Linked DNA regions of Homo sapiens: region 2 is linked to region 1. The links come from fine-mapping of genetic effects on gene expression. Tissue or cell type: whole blood. Region 1 holds a variant in brackets; the other region holds the start of a gene. All regions are shown on one strand. Distances are between the middles of the regions.

Evidence for each region. PIP is the estimated chance that this variant, and not a neighbour inherited with it, causes the effect.
Region 2: AVEN starts here. The variant in region 1 is the best candidate, but not a certain one, in a credible set for the expression of AVEN in whole blood (INTERVAL, PIP 0.68).

What each region holds. Positions count from the first base shown.
Region 1 is chr15:33,842,445-33,850,780 of GRCh38, forward strand. RYR3 (ryanodine receptor 3) reads left to right here. Exons shown (of 104, transcript NM_001036.6): 92 at 1,044-1,130; 93 at 2,418-2,618; 94 at 5,847-5,977. Among named protein-coding and RNA genes, the nearest start is that of CHRM5, 120 kb to the right of the region's middle. The variant G/GT (reference allele first, on the strand shown) is at 3,747.
Region 2 is chr15:34,035,385-34,043,720 of GRCh38, forward strand. It overlaps AVEN (apoptosis and caspase activation inhibitor), which reads right to left and starts at 3,820. Exons shown (of 6, transcript NM_020371.3): 1 at 3,396-3,820. The coding sequence starts at 3,662. The region is part of intron 1 of CHRM5 (cholinergic receptor muscarinic 5); the gene reads left to right. RefSeq lists silencers at 2,793-2,852, 3,203-3,262, 3,353-3,562, 3,743-3,912.

The DNA of each region.
Region 1 (8,336 bases):
ACCTTGATTGTTCTATATGCAATCAAAGCTTAGAACAGCTTGTAATATTCTTTCTCTGATACATTGCCCTCTGAGGTACAGTGGCTGAAGGCCAGGACCACACCTTCCCTAGCACCATTAGTGAGGGCTCCCCACAGAGAGATTGGGAACGTTACCCAGGCAGCTTCCACTCCAGTCTGTGGATGCTGATTTTTCTGGGGAAGATGGCAGCAAGAATGGGAATGCTGTTCCCAACAAGGGAGAAGAAGAGGCTCCTGGAACTGTAACTTGGAAAGGAATGAGGACTGAGGCCACAGAATGGCTACATCCAGGTTGGGAGTTGCCAGGGTCTTCTGCGAGCCTAGACCACTTACAGTTTCCTAATAGACTGCTTGCTGCGTGGAGTGATCACGAAAATGCAGTCACACAGCACTTCAAGGCAAGGCTCGAGTCCTCTGCTGGTGGCGTGTTTAGGCCTTTGGCTCCCTGAGCAATAAAGCCAGAGCAGGATTCTTTATACCAATTCTAAGCAATTTTTTTTTAAATCAACATTTTGGTTCCATGTTCATGACACGACACAGTCATGCCATGGCTGTGTTAAGAATGCCAGGGTTGGCCGGGCACGGTGGCTCACGCCTGTAATCCCAGCATTTTGGGAGGCCGAGATGGGTGGATCACGAGGTCAGGAGATCGAGACCATCCTGGCTAACACAGTGAAACCCCGTCTCTAGTAAAAAAACAAAAAAATTAGCCGGGTGTGTTGGCGGGCGCCTGTAGTCCCAGCTACTCGGGAGGCTGAGACAGGAGAATGGCATGAACCCGGGAGGTGGAGCTTGCAGTGAGCCGAGATTGCACCACTGCACTCCAGCCTGGGGGACAGAGCGAGACTCCATCTCAAAAAAAAAGAAAGAAAAGAATGCCAGGGTTACCCTAGAAGAGTGGTCATCAAAGAGTAGGACGAGTCAAGTGTGAACTTCTAACCAGAACTGACCTTCTGTGTGAAAGTAGGAAGTTCTCTTTTCCTTCCAAAGCTCTTCTACTTCTGCCTGTCCTTTTCTTTGCAGCATTACCTGGCCAGGAATTTCTACAACCTGAGGTTCCTTGCTCTGTTTGTAGCCTTCGCTATCAACTTCATCCTGCTTTTTTATAAGGTGATACTTCATTCAGGGGTTATTTGCTAAATATGCTGTATACTAAGTATGCTATGTGTAGAAAAAGAATCATGACAGAATTTGTGCTCTTAATTGTAGCAAACATTCTAATAGGTAGCAAATTTCTAAGACATTGGCTTCTAAAAGGAATACAATTTCTAGCAGTGGAGAGACTACTGACAAGAGAGCCAGTGAGGGGACTATTTCAATAGTTCATGCTTATTTTAGTCGTTGCTTAGTCTTCAAATACTTGCTGAGCATCTACCATGAGCTAGACCCTGTATTAGGAACAACAAGGTATTTCAAAATGAGTAATAAATAAAATTCTTTCTTCAAGGAATAAGGTAACCAAGAGCCATTATAGTTGGCCTATTTGTTAGAAGCGTTATAAAGGAAAAATTAACAGGATTTGGAAAGAGAGGGGACTGCTCAAGTTAAATGAAGGTTTTGAACATTGGCAAGTGGGTCTTGCATGCTGTAGGCATGTAATAATTGTTAGTGCAGTGAATTAATGAAGGGTCCTGAATTCTCGACATAGTCTTTAACTGGTTTTTCTATCTCTTGCCTATCTCCCTTTCTACTTAAAACCACCAATCTAATTTGTATGAAACATTGTTTTATCCACCTCAACTTTCCACTCGACAAACTAATGACCTTCTGTTGCCCATAAAAGAAAAATGGAAGTCCATAGCCAAGAGAGGCAAAGCTTGGTTTTAAACACATTGAGGTTGAAGTGACTTCAGACAGCCATCCAAGAAGAGAAAGCCAGCAAGCAGTTGGAGCTACAGGACAAAGCCTCAAAGTTGTAGATTTGAGAGTCATCTGTATAAGAATAGCGGCTGAAGCCATGAATGTAAATGGCATCTCAGAAAGAATGGAAAATACTGAGTCTCTGGCTGGGTGGCAGTGGTGGGTGGGGGAGCGGGCACACACATCCTTCACGCTTGTGTGTGTGTCTTTGCCTCCTCTCAGGCCACAGCATGATCAGAGATTCCCTTCTGTGGCATAAGGATTATAAGCATATGTAGTAAAAGTTGCCTAATTTTAATTTTTTTGCTTTCTTCTCAAGAGATAGGTTTTGTCTCCTTTTTAAAAGTTTGTTTGCAATTATTAGAGATACTGGGTGATTCCTAGTAATAAGTCACCTAAAAACCTCATTCATTCAGCAAGTAATGTTGAGTCACTACTATTTGTATAGCACATGCTAACAATATAAAATATGTGGGGAGAGCCCAATGGCTGAGGTTCTTTTTGATGTTTAATAAGCGAGTGTGTATTTTGAGCCAGGTCACTGAAGAACCTTTAGAAGAAGAGACAGAGGATGTTGCAAACCTATGGAATTCCTTTAATGACGAGGAAGAGGAAGAAGCGATGGTATTCTTTGTCCTTCAGGAGAGCACCGGGTATATGGCACCAACCCTGCGTGCCCTGGCCATCATCCATACCATCATCTCTCTAGTCTGTGTGGTGGGCTACTACTGCCTGAAGGTGAGCTGTTTGCCACTCTGGATCTAATCTCACTCCTTGAGGAAGAAATGTCCTTTTTGAGCCCAGCCAGCCCTTTGCTCTAAGACTTTGCTAGCCGTAAAGGCCTTCGTAAGGTCCGTAGAGCAGCAGCAGCACATCACTTGGGAGCTGCCTAGACCTGCAGAGTCTCAGGCCTCACCATAGGTTTTCTTCTGTTGTTGTTGTTTTTGAGATGGGTTTCGCTCTTGTCTCGCAGGCTGGAGTGCAGTGGTGCAAGCTCGGCTCACTGCAACCTCCGCCTCCCAGGTTCAAGCAATTGTCCTGTCTCAGCCTCCCGAGTAGCTGGGATTACAGATGCCTGCCACCATGCCCAGCTAATTTTTGTATTTTTTAGTAGAGACAGGGTTTCACTATGTTGGCCAGGCTGGTCCTGAACTCCTGACCTCAGGTAATCCATCTGCCTCGGCCTCCCACAGTGCTGGGATTACAAGCATGAGCCACTGCGCCCAGCCCCTAAGTCCTTTAACTCAGAATCTACCACTTAGCATGATCACTGGGCAATCTGTACGCACTTTCAAGTTTGAGAAGCCTTGAGCTAGGAGTCCCATTTCAGGTACCTCTTGTTGAATTTCATAGAACTAGAGTCATCAGGCTAAAGTCACATGGAGAGCTAGTCATGACAGAATCTTCTGATCTTTGAATTGATGTCAAAATTTTTATAAAAATACCTTTTCATTAGGTGGTAACCACTCAAGATCTCAGAAGAAAGCTTACTGATGTGTTAGTTTTCAGTTATCCATTGCTGCATAACAAACCACTCTAAAACTCAGTGGTCTAAAATGACAACTATTTATCTCTGTGATTCTGTGAGATGACTGGCACATTTGGGCAGTTCCTCTGTTCTATGTAAAGGCGCTACATTTGCAGCCATCTGCGAGCTCAGCTGGGCTGGAATGGCCAAGATGGCACATTCCCATGCCTGGCAGCTCCACAGGGGGACAACTGGAAGGATGGGCTCAGCTGGGGTAGCTGGGCCTCTCTCTGTCTCCCTCTTTCTCTCCAGGGAGATTCAGAGCATCTCCTTCTCCACGTGGCCTTTCCACATGATCTGTCCGGTAGGGTAGCTAGACTTCTTGCATGATGGCTTGG[G/GT]TTTCCAAAAAGAGCATGGAGGTGGAAGCTGCTAAGCCTTCCTAGGTCTTAGGCCCAGAACTGGTACAGTGTCATTTCCATTGCATTCTGTGGTTTAAGGCAAGTCACATGGCCATCCCAGATGCACTGCTGCATGGTAGAGGGGAGAGGCACTACACAAAGGCATGAATTCCAGGAGGCGTGGTTCCTTGGGGCCATATTCACAACCACTACAGTTATGTCAATCTTCTGTCATTCAATTTTTGGTGTCCCAAGTCCAGATCTAGTTCTGCTACATCATAATTGTGTTTTTCTCACTGCTTTTCTCATTACATTTTTTTCTTCCTTCTCTTGAGTAGGAAGTCTCCTTAAGTACAGCAAGCCATCTTCTTCCCAGGAAGAGTCCAGGAAATACTTTCCTATATTGTGGTCCTTTCTTCCCTCAGTGAACTATTGTGTCATGTAGGAAGTCCAGCTACTGTGCTGCAGAGACCTTATGCCCTGGGCTACACTAAGGACTCTATTGCAACTATGAAAGTGCAAATTCTGGAGCCAAGCTGCCTGGGTTGAACTCACAGCTCTGCCACTTAAACTCCCAGTCCTCTATCTTCTCATACATAAAAATGAGTACTGTTGCTAAAGTTGCTGGGGGGATTAAATGTAGAGGTATGTGTAAATGTACTCAGAACACATAGTAAACCCTCAAGCATGTTCGCTGCTGCTCCTTAGTTTGAGATCCTAGAGTTCAGCTTATTAGATGGAGTACAGATTATACTGTGACCAGGAGAAACAAAAAAGAAACACTATTTAGCAAGTAAAGAATGTGGAAGTTCTGTTTACGAGAGTATACAAACTTCTAGGAGACTGAAGGGGAATGCTTGGAATCCCAGAGATGAGCACCGCTCTACAACTTGATATTACTACTGTTCTCTAGAGTCATCCAAAACACGGCAGGCATTAGTCGCTGAGCTTTGCCTCACCTCCCACATCATCTGTGTACTAACAGTCATCATCAGTTCCTCACAGTGTGCAGTGGCTACTAGCCTTTGCCACCTTCCTATCGTGAGTTTTTCATTTTATCAGTGTTATTTCATTGTTTTAAAGAAAAACAGGGCAAGAGGTAACTCTTTACAAATCACTGTCTGAATTTTGTTCTTTTGTTTTGGACAAAAGCGATGTGGGGTACATGCATATCATGGGTTTGGAGACAAAGGTCTCAAGGATGTTGCCAAGTAGCCAGTGGCATCTCAGCTGGAGATGAGATGAGACGCCCTAGCTCTGTCTGAATTAAGCTTTTCTGGCTAGAGGAGCTGCGTCAATTGTGACTTCTCATTTCCTGGGATTTCAGCAGTATCCTCTGGCCTCATTAACTGTCCCATGTTTGGAGTGTGTGTGCACTTAGTGATGGTTGGGGCAAGTGGATTATTTTCCAATCCCTTTCTGTGTTCCCCTTTGGCAGTAGGTCCTTAGAGCCATACCACTATATCTAGTCTAAAATAAAAGTTCCAATTATAAAAGAATAGAGAGTGATAGTAGGAAACAAGTATGCCACTACCTGGAAGGAGCTCTTTACGGACAGAATCTCAGGAAGAAAACTTCATACAGAAAGACTGAATCTTCTCATTCTAACTATGAGACCATGTTTCATTAACTGACCTTCAACGCCATGAGATAAATATGGCCCTGTACATTGAAGGGAGTTGGAACATTTCATCATATTCCTGTGGCTGGCCGATCTATTCTAGAATGGTTTATTGTCCTTTCTAAATCTTGGTTCAACTCCAGCCGAGGAGCCTTAGGAGTCCTAACTCATTCAACCCTGGGGCTCATCTAGGCGTGGCCTGCACACTAGCATGGGTCAAGGAGTCTAGTTTGTATTAATATTAGCCATCTAACTGAAAACTTAAAGGGTGACCCAAATCAGATCAGCTTTAAAGAGGTAGGTAGGTATTTAGCCAAAGAGATTCATTTGGCTTTGATCCCACAACTAGGCACTCTAAGAATTCCACTATAAGGAGATTGCTGCTCTGAAGTTGGAAGGTTAATTTGTGACAAATACCTGGGAGCAGGAGCTTTAATCACAAAGCCTGCTCTGAGTAACCATCCTCCTCCCACTCCTAGGTGCCTTTGGTGGTTTTCAAAAGGGAAAAAGAAATCGCCAGGAAGCTGGAGTTTGATGGCCTATATATCACCGAACAGCCATCTGAAGATGACATCAAGGGGCAGTGGGACCGCTTGGTGATCAACACACCGTGAGTGTCCCTCTACCCCAACCTAAAAAGGAGATGGAGTCTCTACTGTAAATAGAGTAACTCTTTCCTCCTGGCCTTAAAACTGGTTAATATAAACTGTCTTTTGATTTCTAGGACTTTTCTCCCTTGCCTCTTCAATAAAGCCACTTACTGCCCATCAAATACTTGTATAGACTTCTATTAGTTTAATGGGGACAGAAGATATTATCAGAAAGTACTGAATATATTTGATTTAGACCAGACAGTCCAGTACAATATTGCTTAAACTAGTTTTCCATGTTCGAGTCACACAGTGTTTCCAGGGCTTAAGTGGCCAAGGCGTCTAGAGATCAAGTTGATCAGCTTCAGCTTTTCCATAGCCTTCCATGGCACAGCACTGCTATAACTGCCATCTCTGAAGTCCTCTTTTTTTTTTTTTTTTTTTTTTTTTTTGAGACAGAGTCTCCCTTTGTTGCCCAGGCTGGAGTGCAGTGGCGCGATCTCAGCTCACTGCAAGCTCTGCCTCCCGGGTTCACGCCATTCTCCTGCCTTAGCCTCCCGAGTAGCTGGGACTACAGGCGCCTGCCACCACGCCTGGATAATTTTTTTGTATTTTCAGTAGAGACGGGGTTTCACCGTGTTAGCCAGGATGGTCTCGATCTCCTGATCTGGTGATCCACCCACCTCAGCCTCCCAAAGTGCTGGGATTACAGGCATGAGCCACCACGCCCGGCCTGAAGTCCTCCTCTTAACCAAATAGCCTGCTTGGTAAGAGACCTCGTCTTAACGTAAGATTGAGAGGCAATTACATGGGCAGGTAAATAGAGCCGTCTGGTAGGGATATGAAGACCTGTGGAGGCAAGCCTGCCTTCCTGTAGGCATGTGGCACTGTGGTGGGAAGAAGGAAGAGCACTGATTGACAGGCAGGTGACACCAAGGCTCTGACGCTTACTGGTCTGTGAACTTGCACAAGGTAATCAAGCCTTCTCAGCCTTAGTTTCCTCATCAGTAATAGAAGGATGAGAATATCATCCTGCAGAGGATTAATGAATGTATGTGTCAAATGCTTGGCAAATGCCTGGCACGTGGTAGGCATTAAGCTGTTACTCATTCTCTTTTCTTTCCTGTAACTATCCAAAAAGTGGCCATCACCATTAGCAAATGTCACACTCTAATGACAGTTGATTCACAAGTAAGTGACAGTTTCAAGATAAATTAATGTGGCAAAAGAAAAGAAATAGGGCCAAATAGTAAACAAAGGTGACTGTGTTGAAACTCTTAGGTGTGCCAATTAAGATAGGCATGTTAAGAAACAGCAACCCTGACTCCAGGGGAAGAAAGCTGTGTCCTATCCAAAGATGATCAGGCAAACTGAGAAGCAGCTCTGCAAAGGTACAACTAAGGATATTTATTTCTTTATATTCTCCAGAAAAGGAAGCCTCTTCCCTTAGAAGGGGGAAAATGTGAACAGGCACATCCTCACATCCTAAGTCTGTCCCTGCCTGCGGGTCCCCTGCCAATCTTCTCACACAAGGAAAAGCACTGTTTCTGATGCTTTGTCATTACATTACAGAAGTCTTAGACACTATTGAATAGTTTAATCCTTTGGTAAGCTTTGTGCAATCATCAGTAATGCCTGCGTCTTGTTATACAGGGGCATGTGGCCTAAAAGTCCCAGTAAGAAGGCAGTTCAATTTCGGCCAGGCACAATGGTTCATGCCTGTAATCCCAGCGCTTTGGGAGGCCGAGGCGGGTGGTTCATGAGGTCAGGAGTTCGAGACCAGCCTGGCCAACATAGTGAAACCCCGTCTCTACTAAAAATACAAAAAAATTAGCTGAGCGTGGTGGTGGGCGCCTGTAATCCCAGCTACTTGGGAGTCTGAGGCAAGGAGAATCACTTGAACCTGGGAGGCGGAGGTTGCAGTGAGCTGAGATCACACCACTGCGCTCCAGCCTGGGCGACAGAGCAAGACTTCATCTCAAAAAAAAAAAAGAAGGCAGTTCAATTTCTAGCAATGTATCCTAAGGAGATAATGAGACAAGTACACTAAAATGTCCTAACAAAGGTATTTCCCAATATTTTTTACTTAGAGTGGCTTAAACGTCCATGAGTAGGAAATGCATAAATAAATAGCTATTTTTTAAAATGTTAGATAGACCAATGTTTAATTTTTTTTCACAATGGCATCATAGTACATGTTCATGTTTTGTAACGTGCTTTTTTTCAGTTAACTGTATGTCATGGGAGCTTTCTTTTTAAACATTTTACTTTTATATTGTTAAGCACACATAAGAACATATAAAATGTATATGTACATTTTACAGTATAATTATAAACCAAAAAGGTTAAAAAAATAGAACATTACTGAGAGCTTAAAAA
Region 2 (8,336 bases), 190 kb after region 1:
AAAATAATCAGGCATGTGAAAGAATCACTCAACAGTCCTCCACACACCCCTTTTTCAAATCTCAAAGTCATTCCAGGAGCAGTTTAGAGCAGCAGTCGAAAGAACAGGCTCTGGAGTGAAAATGCTGGGGTGGAATCCAGGCTCAGCAATTTTCTGGTTGAGTGATATTAAAAAGTTATTTCACCTCTCCTAACTGTGAGTTATTTAACGGTGCCTCAGCTGTCTCATCTTATATTAAGTACTCGACAAATGTGAATTACTGTTATTACTAGAGGAAGGAAAAAAGAAAAAAAATTCCAAAGACTACCAGCTGGCCTTGTCTTCCTCTCTGCTAACAGCCCATCACAAAGATAAATACTAAACAATCCTAGTATTGGGGGCAGTGATAGGGGGATTATTTATTCATTTAGTTAGTAAGTTAGTTATTTGAGACAGAGTCTCACTCTATTGCCCAGGCTGGAGTGCAGTGGCAGGATCACAGCTCACTGCAGCCTCCACCTCCGGGGCTCAAAACAATCCGGCTGCTTCAGCCTCCCTTGTAGCAGGGACTACAGATGCACCCCGCCATGCTCGGCAGTTTTGTATTTTTTTTATAGAGAGGGGGTCTCGTTATGTTGCCCAGTCTGGTCTCGAACTCCCAGACTCAAGTGACCCACCCACCTCAGCCTCCCAAAGTGCTGGGATTACAAGCGCGAGCCACCACACCCAGCCAGTTTTGTGTTTTTTTTTTAAAGTTAATGATTGTATCTAGTACAATAATGCTTCTAGTGAGTATTCCGTGAAGATAATTATGCTCACCCATAATCAGTAAGCTTAGAGCTCAGACCATTTACAGAAGGAATGATTTAAGAGCAAGAGACTAAGAGATGTACTCAACTTAGTACTCAACTAAGTTACCCTGGAGTATTACATAGCTATGTAGAAGTTGGTTAGATTGATTTTGTTTTCCATTTGTATGCAGTGGTCCAAAATAGAAAGCAAAGGTGTACACAAAATTGGTTTCTGAAGGTGGACAACTGGTCTTTACATGGCTAGGAGTCTATTATGATTTTTTTTTCCTTTGATCATTTCGGTTACTCTCTCCTTGGGGCACAAATGCACCATGGGATATGAGAACAAGAAGGCTTCAGGAAAGTCAATCAATCTTGTCTCATGTAATGGTTAAGCACCAAAAATGGTGTCCTAGCAAGACTAAATACAAACAGTACTTCAGAATCTGAGAAATGGAAGGAACTTAGAGATGACCAATCCAAACCAAAATTAAGGAACAATCTGCCCAACATCCCTCCCTCCAGCTTTGGCTGAAAACATGATGATGAAGGGATAAGACCAACTCGACAAAAGAAAAAGCCTAAAATTTTAACAGAATGTGTTACAATACTATCTTAAATTTTTTAAAGTCTTGTATTATTCTTTCTTTTAATGATATACCATCATGACCAGGCGCAGTGGGTCACACCTGTAATCCATATCCCAGCACCTTGGGAGGCCGAGGCGGGTGGATCACCTGAGGTCAGGAGTTCGAGACCAGCCTGACCAACATGGTGAAACCCCATCTCTATTAAAAATACAAAATTAGCCGGGCAAGGTGGCTCATGCCTGTAATCCCAGCTACTTGGGAGGCTGAGGCAGGAGAATCACTTGAACCCGGGAGGCGGAGGTTGCAGCAAGCCAAGATCATGCCATTGCACTCCAGCCTGGGCAACAAGAGTAAAACTCCGTCTCAAAAAAAAAAAAAAAATATATACCATCATTTCACCCAATTTAATTCAACAGAGATTAACAAAACAGAAGCACCTTCACTCACTCAATTCAACTTAAAGACACTTATTAGTAAAGTCCTGTGCGCCAGACACCATAGTTAACACCAAATGTACCATTACTACAATTACTCTTAAAGCACGATCCCTGCAGCTAAGGAATATCTACTTTGTTCTCAATAAAGTGGTAACTGGTTCACGAAAAAGTAAGAGATAAAATACTGTTGACTCAAGGGCAGCTTGATATAAATCCCAGCTCTGCCACTAGCTGTGAAAGCTTAGGCAAGTCAGTTAACCTGTAAAAATAAAGATTACTCTCTATATATGGATATATAAATAATATATAACATTGTAGTTAATATATAATTACATACTATTATATTACATAATTCTACATTACATATATATTATATATATATAATAGAGTTATAAGAACAAAATGTGATATATAGTGGGCACTAGGTTGGTCTTAGTTTCTGTCATTTACCTTAGTTTCTGTCAGTTTACACGAGGTAAACTGACCCTAAAAATGTTTTTATATCTCATTCAAGTTTTGCCTATTACCTATCTTAATCCTAACAAGATTTAAGTTTGTTACATTTAAATTTAAGTTTTATACTTTTTTTTCCAGCTCTGTATTGCTGTATACAACTACTCTCTTTAGGGATATCTTATCTGCTATGCCCTCAAGATATTGTAAATACTTCAGTAAGAGCAAATTTTGCCTCATGCAAAAAAGAATTTTTTAAATCAGTGTGCATAAGAATGCAGAATATAAAGATGGTCTTGTCCTACAGATGTTAAGGTAACAGAACAACTCATAAAAAGACAGTCCTCTAACTCCTTTAGCTGAGATATGGTTAGCTTTGCCCCCATATATATCATCCCCTGCTCCAATCTCCAAAAACTTCCTTCTATGAATGTGTCAATAAGACTGATGATATTGCTATTAAAACTCAGAACTTGACTGCTCATTTATAAATTGAAAATTCAAAACGACAAAGCCCAGTGCTCGCTGATTTCTACACATACAGGCATAATAAAAGAGAACTACGCTATTACAAAGAACTATGCATCTGGTCCCGCCCCCAAATACTAGAGTCCAGTCGTAGGGGTCATTCTTTCACTCAACAAACTTTTTATTATGCGCCTACTGTGTACTAGGCATTGCACAGACAGTTAACAAAACAGACCAAAAAATCCTTTCCCTCCTAATAACAGGAGCGTGCCCGTAAAGGCTGCCGAGGGACCACGTCGTGGCCGCGCCTCCGTCCCATAGTGGTACTCGTACAGACAGCCCAGCCGGCCCACGGGCCGCCGAGACTTGCAGCCCTGACACACGGCCTTGGCCTCTGGGTTCCTAACCCGGACCCTGGGGCAGGCTGGGAAGCCCTCCTACCCCCACTGTCTCGCGCCAGCCCGGCCAGGAGGCCACGAGGGCCAAGCGCATACCCAGGCGCGCCCCCGCCACCAGGCGCGCCCCCGCGCCACCATCCGCCCGTCCCGCGCAGGCGCCGGCGCCGCCGCCCGTCTGGCGCGCGCCTGGCACGCTCTCTTGCGGCTCTTGACTGGCGGCCTCGGCCCCACTTGCCCCAGTTACACGCGGTCCCAGCCCCACCAGCCGTCGCCTCTTACCGGCGCGCTGGCCCCTGCGCCCCAGCCTCCCGGCTCCCGGCGGCTGCCTCGCGGGGCGCCTCCTCCTCCTCGGCCTCCGCGAGCGCCGCGGAAGCCCCGGCCACGGCCACGGCCCCGGCGTCCGCCTCCGTCCCCGCCGCCGCCTCCGCCGCCGCCTCTGGCTACCGCCGCTGCGGCTCCGGGCCGCTCGCTGTGGCGATCTCCGCCAGGCCGGCCGCGGCCTGGCCGCCGCCCACGGCCTCCCCGAGCTCCTCGCTCCGCCTGCATCTGGCCGCCGCTGGCGGTGCTGAGCGCGCGGGAGCCGAGCTGCGGCGGAGACGCCCTGGCCCCACCGGAAGCGGGCCGCACGGAGGAGCCGCGAGCGAAAGGCGCCCGGTAGCAGCGAGGCGCGGGGTGCGGGGCTAGGGATCGAGGCCGGCCGCAGCGGAGCGGGGCGGGGCGGGGCGGCCGGCGTCCCGCAGGTGGGGCCGGAACCGGGACCGCGGGAAGGCCGGACCGCTGGGAGCTGGAAGTGGTGGGGGTCTGCAGCGGGGCGGGGGGATTCTCAAGGCATCAGAGATAGGTTGGGGGAGAGACCGTGCTAAGTGCAAGGACGAGTCATAAAATAAAATTTGTATGATGTGAACTCTCGGAAAAAAAAAGTTTAAACGTATGTATTTGCATAAGAAAAGGTCTAAACAAATACATACTAAAATGTTAGTGGTTAACTGCTGAGATTTGAAGTGAGTTAATTTTTTTTCCTCCGTTTAATCTAATTTTCAGCAACGAATGTGTATCATTTTAAAACTATACCGAAGTCAGGGTTCAGGAGGTGTGGATGTAAAGACAAGAGTTTGTGTCTGGTGAGAGGTGGACTGCAGCACGTGGGAGAGAGAACAGTGCGAAACTGGGAGATGGCTAGAAAGGGCGTCAAAGTCCTCAGCAGAATTTCTGTAGAAATGACTACTACAGCTGACATTTATTGAGCACATGAGTATTTCATTCTCATAACAGCTCTATGAGGTAGGGATGACTGTCATCCTTATTCTGCAGTGAGGTAACAGCCTTGGAAAGGTTAAAAAAAACTTGACTAAAGTGAATAACTAGGTAGTGGTGGAACTGGCATTCTAAGGCGGTCTCACTCCAGTCCCTTCTTTCAACCAAGGAGAAAACAGGAAGGGGAACAGTTGGTTACACAGATGCATGAAAGCAGTTTTTAACTTGGGACTGAAACCACCTGAAAATAATGAAAGCAAGGGCTAAAATGTCAGCCTAGCAGAATAAGTGTTTTCTTCCCCCTCAGTACTTTCTGGTTCTTTCCTATATCCATACATAGTTAATACTTTTCATTGCTTCTAATTGCCTACTCTGCATCAGGCACAGTGCTATGTCCTGAAATTAAAAACAAAAACAAAAAAAAAACCTTGCCCCTGCCCTCAAGTAGCTCACTGCCCACAAGGAAGATAATCTAGTCGTGTGAATAGATGATTACAGTACCGTGTTGCTGAGTGCAGTGAGAGATTCAAGATCAAGGTCCAAAGAAGAAAAGTTAAATTATATTTAAACGGGTTACCCAAGGCTTCATGAGAAATAGACCCCTGAGCTAAAGCCTAATGGTTGAGTAGGAGTTTGCCTGGTTGGTAAATGGGAGTAGGGGCGCCTTCCAGACAGGGGGAACTATTGAAGGATTGTCAACTCCAGAGAAACAGTCTTAAAAATAGTAACACTTGTAGAGCACTTATATGCACCAAACACTATTCTACATACTTCTCATATCACTTCATTTGGGACTAATAGCTGGCCTACGAGGTAAGCTAGTGTTGTCTCCATTTTACAGATCAGGAATCTAAAACAGATGTTAAGTAACTTCCAAGATTACACAGTTACAGGCCAGGTGTGTGGTTCGTGCCTGTAATCCCAGCATTTTGGGAGGCTGTGGCGGGTGGATTGCCTGAGACATGAGTTCAAGATCAGCCTGGGCAACATGGTGAAACCCCATTTCTACAAAAATTAGCTGGGCATGGTGGTATATGCCTATAGTCCCACTACTTGGGAGGCTAAGATAGAGAATCATTTGAGCCCAGGAGGTTGAGGCTGTAGTGAGCTGTGATTGTACATGGGCAACAGAAGGAGACTGTCTAAAAAAAAAAAAAAGATTTCAACATGAATTTTGAGGGAGATGAACATTTAGACCATAGCAGTGGGGAAGGGGCATGGAAGAATATGGTTAAATATCTACCAGCATATCACTGGTCTGGCCTCTCACCAAGTTGAAGATCCACACATTAATCTCAAACTAGACATTTGCACAAATCGGAGTTTCTCAATGTTGGCAAATTTAGGGCTGGGTAACATTTTGTGGCGGTAGCTTATCCTGTGCATTGTAGAATATTTAATAGCATCCCTGGCCTCTACCCACTAGATGCCAGAATGAACCCCTCTCCCCCTCATTAAGACAACCAAAAACATCTCCAGACATTGCCAAATGTTCCCTGAGAGGCAATCACCCTGGATGAGAACCACTAGCACAGATAGATTGGTGCAAAAGGTACGTTTTAGTATCTAAGGAGCTACCGATGTAATTTATCCAAAAATTTATCCAGCCTTAAATTTGCCAACATTGAGAAACCCTGATTTGGGCAAATGTCTGGTATGAGATTAATATGTACATCTCCAATGTAGTGAGAGACGAGACCAGTGGGAAATAGGGCTTTAAGGAACTATATAACTATCCCTTGAGAAGCCTCCAAAATTATGAGGTTGAAAAGATCAGTGGCTTGCAGATTAAGCCAGTGTTATTAGGGCACATTCACTATGCTTGATACTTTCAACTAGTCAGTGTAAGACTCAGTAACACTTTTGAAAGGTATGCCATTTTAGAGAGAGATTGGTTTGTGGATGATGCCAAGTTTTTTTAACACTTATTTTGCACCTGATACTATTCTAAGCACTTTCCACGTACTAACTCATTAAATCTTCAAAATATCCCTATGAAATAAACACTATTATTATTCCTATTTTACAGATAAGAAAACTGAGTTGCAAAAAAGTTAAATAATTTGCTCAAGCTAGTAAGTAACAGAACTGGGATTTATACCAGTACAGTCTAATTCCAGAATCCATGCCTGTAAGTCTATTCTGCAGATGCCCTCAGAAGTCCGGGGGTATGTTACTCTCCATCTGTTCATTCAAGGCGTATCTTGTTTTTCTCAATTCAACCAAGAGTGTTTAGGATAGGAAAATTCTGAGGTCCCCCTTCTAGCACTTCCTAATTAGCGGACACAACTAGCCAAAGTTCTTTCAACAAGGATACGGTATATGCTGTCCTCGTGTGATTCTGGTCCAAAAATGTGTTATTAAGGTTTAAAAATACCACACAAGTACCTCCTGCATTTTGAGCAACCAGAGACCTTTGGATTGCATAAATAACAAAGGGAAGGAATCTTTTCTGGTATTGCTTTTGCTTGATAGTCCTGATTTTAAACATATGCCATTGCATGAATAAAAAATTCAGTTTTCCCTTAGGTAGGACTCATGAGAATTCATGAGTATCAAAACCAAAGTGCTGAATTATATAGGTAGCTCCTTAGAAACGAAACTGTACTTTTTGCATATTTTTAATACATACATGACCTAAGTTTTTTTTTTTTTTTTTTTTTGAGACGGAGTTTCGCACTTGTTGCCCAGGCTGGAGTACAATGGCGCAATCTCAGCTCACCACAACCTCTGCCTCCCAGGTTCAAGCGATTCTCCTGCCTCAGCTTCCTGAGTAGCTAGGATTACAGGCATGCACCACCACGCCCGGCTAATTTTTTTGTATTTTTAGTAGAGACGGGGTTTCTCCATGTTGGTCAGGCTGGTCTCAAACTCCCGACCTCAGGTGATCCATCCGCCTCAGCCTCCCAAAGTGCTGGGATTACAGGCAACAGCCACCGTGCCCGGCAACCTAAGTTATTTTTTAAATAAAATGGTAGCCAATTCCTTAAGGTAGTTGTTCTCAAAATGTAGGCCAGAAAAATAGCATCACCTGGGAACTTGTTAGAAATGCAAATTCAGAATTAAAACTCTGGGGATGAGGCCCAGTAATCTGTGTCTTAATAAACCTGCCAGTTGATTCTGATGCATCCTCAACTACTGTGTCAAGGTAGCATCTGAGCCTTCAAACATCACAAGAAACCCAGTAATTCCTAGTCTAAGACTATGGATTGGCCAGGCGCGGTGGCTCACGCCTGTAATCCCAGCACTTTGGGAGGCCGAGGTGGGTGGATCACGAGGTCAGGAGATTGAGACCATCCTGGCTAACACAGTGAAACCCCGTCTCTACTGAAAATACAAAAAATTAGCCAGGCATGGTGACGGGCGCCTGTAGTCCCAGCTACTTGGGAGGCTGAGGCAGGAGAATGGCGTGAACCTGGGAGGCAGAGCTTGCAGTGAGCCGAGATCACACCACTGCACTCCAGCCTGGGCGACCGAGCAAGAATCCGTCTCAAAAAAAAAAAAAAGACTATGGATCTCATAGGCTTTCACTGTTTGACGAAAAGTAGATGTTATGATAGGACTTAGAAAAAAATGCACTGTCCTCTTGCAAATATAAAGTTTGTGGGGAAAGTACCTCTTCCTGATTCTTCTCTTCATAGGCAAGCAGATTTTCTATAGTTTAGCTAGTTTCTCGTGCTTAATATATAAACAATGCAAACTGGAAAACACATAAGTTTCTCAGAAAGATGTCTTTATTTACTATGTTGTTTTGAACAGCTCCATCTACTACTGAGGGTGCTCACCAGCTACAGGGGGAGAGACTCTGGCATGAGCTATTCTTTCAGCCTGGAATCCACAGCCTGTACTCTGGTGGAGAAAAGGGAAAGTGAAGAGCTTACCAGGTCATAAGTCATAAGGGTACTTTGACTTGAAGGGCTGGAGTCATGATTAGAGAACTCCTGAAAATGCATGGAGCAAACTCCC